Regions from separate parts of the Homo sapiens genome. Here region 1 is linked to region 2. The links come from fine-mapping of genetic effects on gene expression. A gene starts in region 2. The other region holds a variant in brackets. All regions are shown on one strand. Distances are from middle to middle. Region 1 has its middle 33 kb from the start of LILRA2. Region 2 holds the start of DNAAF3 (dynein axonemal assembly factor 3).

Region 1 (2,908 bases), 630 kb before region 2:
GTGGTGCATGTCTGTGGTCCCAGCTACTCCAGAGGCTGAGGCAGGAGAATTGTTTGAACCCGGGAGGCGGAAGTTGCAGTGAGCCGAGATTATGCCACTGCACTCCAGCTTGGGCGACAGGACGAGACTCCGTCTCAAAAAAAAAAAAAAATTCAACATGGCAATGCCTTGTGTGTGTTCACAGCACCAGTGAGGCTGACATGCCGGGGGAGAGGGGTGGAGCTGAGAGAGGAGGACAGGGACCAACTTGTGTGAACGTTTCTCGTTTTTAAAATGTTTAATTTTTGTGGGTACCTAGTAGGTGTGTATATTTATCAGGCGCATGAGATGTTTTGATACAGGCATGAAATGTGAAATAAGCACATCATGGAGGTTAAGGCATCCATCCCCTCAAGCATTTATTCTTTGAGTTACAAACAATTTAATTAAGATTTTTTTTTTTTTTTTGAGATGGAGTCTTGCTCTGTCACCCAGACTGGAGTGCATTGGCGCGCTTTCCGCTCACTGCAACCTCTGTCTCCTGGGTTCAAGCAGTTCTCCTGCCTCAGCCTCCCAAGTAGCTGGGATTACAGGTGTACGCCACCATGCCTGGCTAACTTTTTGTATTTTAGTAGAGACAGGGTTTCAACATGTTGTCCAGGCTGGTCTCAAACACCTGAGCTCAGGTGATCTGCCCGCCTCAGTCTCCCAAAGTCTTAGGAGTACAGGTGTGAGCCACCATGCCTGGCCCCAATTATGCTTTTTATTTTAAAATGTACAGTAAAGTTCTTATTGACTAGAGCCAGCCTGTTGGTGCTACCAAGTGAGGGTTTCTAAGCAACAGTAAAGAGTTTGGATTTTATTCCAATAAAGAGGTGAAGACAAGTTTTGTTTTGTTTTTTTTTCAGAGTCTTACTCTGTCTCCAGGCTGGAGTGCAGTGGCGTGATCTCGGCTCACTGCAACCTCTGCCTCCCGGGTTCAAGTGATTCTCCTGCCTTAGCCTCCTGAGTAGCTGGGATTATAGGCACCCACCACCATACCCGACTAATTTTTGTATTTTTAGTAGAGACCAGGTTTCACCATGTTGGCCAGGATGGTCTCGATCTCTTGACCTTGTGATC[C/T]GCCTGCCTTGGCCTCCCAAAGTGCTGGGATTACAGGTGTGAGCCACTGTGCCCAGCCGTTTTTTTTTTTCTTTTTTTTTGAGACAGAGTCTTGCTCTGTTGCCCAGGCTGAAGTGCAATGGCGTGATCTTGGCTCACTGCAACCTCCGCCTCCTGGGTTCAAGCGATTCTCCTGCCTCAGCCTCCTGAGTAGCTGGGATTACAGGGGGCCCGCCACCAAGCCTGGCTAATTTTTGTATTTTTAGTAGAGACAGGGTTTCACCATGTTGGCCAGGCTGGTCTTGAACTCCTGACTTCAGGTGATCCACCCACCTTGACCTCCCAAAGTGCTGGGATTACACGCATGAGCCACTGTGCCTGGCCGAAGACAAAGGTTTTAGTCAGAAACGTGTCATGATCCACATTCTATTTTAGAGATAGCAATCGGCCGATGTGAATAGTGTTTATTACAGGGAGGCAGGAGTGGAAGCCAGGAGCCTGGTGGGGCTGTGACATCCTTGTAGAGGACACTCATGGCAGCTTAGATGTGCTGGGGCTGGAGAAGGAGTTGAGCAGGTGGATTCAGGAGAGGCTCAGAGCTGGAGTCACTAAGAGGGAGAGTTTGGAAACTTGTTCCAGTATTTCTCAGTGCATGACCTGGGGCACGCTCATTTCTCTCTGAGCCTCTGATTCCATTGATGGCAACTCATACTTGGGCTATCAGAGAAGTAGCAACTCAGCAGGGAGCCTTATGGGGGAACGAGACATAGTCCTTGAAAGAGAAAAGATTATAATCAGACACTTGGGCTCAATGGATGGCTCTGCTAGTTATGGTCACTCATCTTGGAAAGCATCCGTTTTCTTTTCTTTTCTTTTTTCTTTTGTTTTCTTCTTTTTGTTTGAGCCAGAGTCTCTCTGTGTTGCCCAGGCTGGAGTGCAGTGGTATGAAACTGGCTTACTGCAATGTCCCAGTTTCAAGTGATTCTCCTGCCTCAGCCTCCCAAGTAGCTGGGATTACAGGTGTCTGCCACCACGCCCGGCTAATTTTTGTATTTTTAGTAGAGACAGGTTTCACTATGTTGGTCAGGCTGGTTTTGAACTCCTGAACTCCAGTGATCAGCCTGTCTGTGCCTCCCAAAGTGCTGGGATTACAGGCATGAGCCATGGCACCTGGCCAAAGCATCCAAGTTGTTGGATAGAATATTGGGCTAATGATGCCTCCCTCCTTATGGAAAAAAAAAAAGTAGGAAAGAGAAGAAAGAAAAGCTTCCCAAGTTGAATGTCTAGAAGTAGCAGACATGTCTAGAATTGAGCCCAAGAGTACGGCTGGCTACAGTCTTTTCTCTTTCAAGGACTATATCATGGATGAGAGAGTGATGAGATGTGTCCACACATGTGGAAGTCCTCCCACCACCTCTCAGCATGGGTCCTGGTACGGAGGGTATGCTCCTATGTGACATAGCCTGTGCCCCCTCCCCTTTTTCTCTCCTGAATCCTCCACCCACCTGCTCTTACTCATTACTCAGAAAAACACCAACATTGTTTGGAGCAAGTTCAATTCTCAGAAACTGGCATGAGAGTCATCCTCTGGCCACCTCTATCTCCATTCTCAGAAAGTGTATTTGTCCTGGGCTGAGAAGGGACGAGGGAAATGGTATTCAGCTATGGTACATGCAGAGGGTTTCCTTTGTCATGCAAAAACAAACTGTCTTGTCTCATGAGGAAGTGGGAGGGGAGGCACACTGGAGCCTGGTAGGCCTGGGTTCAGACCTCCATGTCTCTCCTTTTTTTTTTCTTTTTTTTTTTTTTTTGAGATGGAGTCTTGCTC
Region 2 (2,908 bases):
CATTTTTGGTTTTTAGATGGAGTTTCGCTCTCTTTTTTTTTTTTTTTTTTTTTTTTTTGAGACGGAGTCTCGCTCTGTCACCCTGGCTGGAGTGCAGTGGCGCGATCTCAGCTCACTGCAAGCTCCGCCTGCCGGGTTCACGCCATTCTCCTGCCTCGGCCTCCCAAAGTGCTGGGATTAACAGGCGTGAGCCACCGCGCCCGGCCGGAGTTTCGCTCTTGTTGCCTAGGCTGGAGTGCAATGGCGCGATCTCGGCTCACTGTAACCTCCGCCTCCCAGGAAAATAACCAAACTTTTTAATTGTACCATTGAAATGCCAGAATCCCTCTAGGGAGGGGGAGGAGACCAGCGGTCAGAATGCCTGGGTCCTAGCAACAGACCTTGCAGCCCCATCTTCTCCGGTTCCTCCAGGGCTAGGCTGAAGATCAGCATGTGTCGGGCCACAGCTTCCAGATTATTCTCCAGCACAAAGAACTAGAAGGATGGACAGGGCAGAATAATTCTGAGACCTGTTTGCCTGGGTCCTAGGAGACCCAGGAGAGCAGGCCCTCAGCTCTCTCCTTCCACACACCCGAGTTCTGTACACCAGCCTCTTCCTTCAAACACAGAAGTCTGTGTCCCCAGAGCTCTCTTCCCTTCCATTACTCAGAAGACCTCATCCTCGAGCTCTTCCCCACTATAGAACCCAGGAGTTCCAAACCCCAGCCCCTTCCTTCCCCCAAGACGCATCGGTTCGCTCCCAGCTTCTGCCTCCCTCAGATCTAGGAGTCTCCAGCCCCTTCATTCCTGGACCTGAGGTTTTAGAATTTCAATCCCTTCCTCCCTCAAGGACTCGGGAATCTGGGCTCTCATCTTCATCCCAGCTCACGTTGAACCTCCTGCGAGGCCAGAACTTCGCTCGGGACAGGGTCCGCAGCAGGTGCCGTCCATCCACAGAGCCCAGAAGCAGCACATCTAGCTCGGGGTTGCTGTGCACTGTATCGGCCTGGGAGTCTGGGTCCACAGGAGGACCTGGCAAGATGACAGCTGGCTGGGGCACCATGGTGGTTGGCAGAGCGTCCACCGTAGCATCCCCTATAAAAAATGGACTACAAATCCCAGTAGGCGTTCCGCCCGTGGCCTAGGTTCTAAGGGGAGGTGTTTCCTCTGAGTATTCTGGGATTCGCAGTCCGCAGACAGGACCTCGGGGCTGCCCCTGGGAGCGCGCCCTCTGCCGCTGGAGCGTTGGAGAACGTTAGCGCCCCCCTTGCCACCGACGCTGGGACTACGAGCTCTAAAAGGCCGTCTGCTCAGGCTGGGAAGGCAGACGGTGTATCAGACCTTGCGTGCTGGGACTCACTTTCAGCCTGCAGGTCCAGCGCCGGGGACAGGCCCCACCAGGACACGGAGCCGAAGCCGCTGCCGGAGCCGGCAGGTGTGGTCATCACCCTGCGGAAAAGACATTCTGGGAATCGCACACATTGCCCGCCCCGCTCCCCTCTCACCGCCCCTCACTTCTCGCCCCTTTGCCTCCACATGATACCTTGCCCACACCTTTATCCTCCAAATATCCCGGGACGCCCCTTCCTCTCTGCTCAGTGCAGCACTGTGGACCCGCGGCACTCCACAACCGCTGCCCAGAGTCCCCGCCCTTTTCGAGGAATCAAGCAATGGAAGCATGTGGGATGGGACCACAGCGAGCAACTGACCAATGAGAGTGAGCGAGGCCCGCCCTCTACAAACTTTTGGCCAATGGGAGCACTGAGGGCCAGCCTTCCCCCACACCTAGGAGAAGAGGGCGTGTGGACGCGGTTGTCATGACGACGGCGCCGGCGGGGGAAGGGGCGGTGCTAGAACAGGTTGGGGCGGAGTCAGGGTCGGTCCAAATTTCTGGAATGGGGGAGGCCTGGGCTGATTAAAATTGAGAGTGAAGGGAGCTTAATCTTATTTCTTGTTTTTTGTTTTTTTGTTTTCTTCATATGCCTTTGCTCATACGTAACGGAATTTTCATCAATTCAAATAAAGTGAAGTGTCTAGACTTTAGATGGCAGGCTTCTGAGCCCGCTCCCCGCCCCAGCACAACGTGGGCTCTACCACACAGAACAGCCCACAGGTGGGACACTGATGTGCAGGTCATTAAAAATTCAGGGATTTGTGAGCTGGTTATTGTTACACGAAGCCATAATTTAAACTTACAGCTAGATCCTTTTGTAGTTTCTAAGCGGGATGATTGGGTGTTCACGCGCATGCGTGAGATGTGCCTCCCTCAAACCTTGTTACGACATCGGCACATTACTCTTCTGACATGAACAAAAAAATTACAGGTAAATTCTGTAATCGTACAGTTAAATCAACTGCATTAAAATAAGGGTAAGTCGGCCGGGCGCTGTGGCCACGCCTGTGATCCCAACACTTTGGGAGGTCAAGGTGGGCAGATAACTTGAGGTCAGAAGTTGGAGACCAGTCTGGCCAACATGGTGAAACCGCGCCTCGACCTTAAAAAATACAAAAATTAACCGGGCGTGGTGGCACGCACCTGTAATCCCAGCTACTCCGGAGGCTGAGGCAGGAGAGTCTGTTGAACCTGGGAGGCAGAGGTTGCAGTGAACTGAGATCGCGCCTCTGAACTCCAGCCTGGGCGACAGAGCAAGACTCTGTCTCAAAAAAAAAAAAAAGAAAAACCAAAGTCTGAATGAGGCACATCTCTAGATCACCCCAGCACCCAGCACTGGGCTCAGCGCCCAAGGGGACTTGGCTCTCTGCCTCCTCTCCTTGCCCAGACACATGAGCTTAGACCAGTCACCCTTTCTGAGCCTCAGTCTGCTGCTCTGTGAAATGGGAATGTAGCGTGCAGCGGGCAGAGGTGCAGCGGATCTGCCTCCTGAGGGCAGATCTGGGCACTGGGAAGACAATACCTACTGGGGAAACG

What was found. PIP is the estimated chance that this variant, and not a neighbour inherited with it, causes the effect. A credible set is the group of variants that fine-mapping cannot tell apart.
Region 1: its variant is the best candidate, but not a certain one, in a credible set for the expression of DNAAF3 in uterus (GTEx, PIP 0.86).

The regions. Positions count from the first base shown.
Region 1 is chr19:54,539,150-54,542,057 of GRCh38, forward strand. It overlaps the pseudogene KIR3DX1. Among named protein-coding and RNA genes, the nearest start is that of LILRA2, 33 kb to the right of the region's middle. The variant C/T (reference allele first, on the strand shown) is at 1,102.
Region 2 is chr19:55,164,990-55,167,897 of GRCh38, forward strand. It overlaps DNAAF3 (dynein axonemal assembly factor 3), which reads right to left and starts at 1,624. Exons shown (of 12, transcript NM_001256715.2): 1 at 1,534-1,624; 2 at 1,340-1,428; 3 at 869-1,011; 4 at 381-474. The coding sequence starts at 1,424. DNAAF3-AS1 (DNAAF3 antisense RNA 1) reads left to right here. Exons shown (of 4, transcript XR_007067345.1): 4 at 830-1,915. LOC124904795 (small nucleolar RNA U13) reads left to right here and starts at 2,182; the gene lies at 2,182-2,285. RefSeq lists a silencer at 1,004-1,235.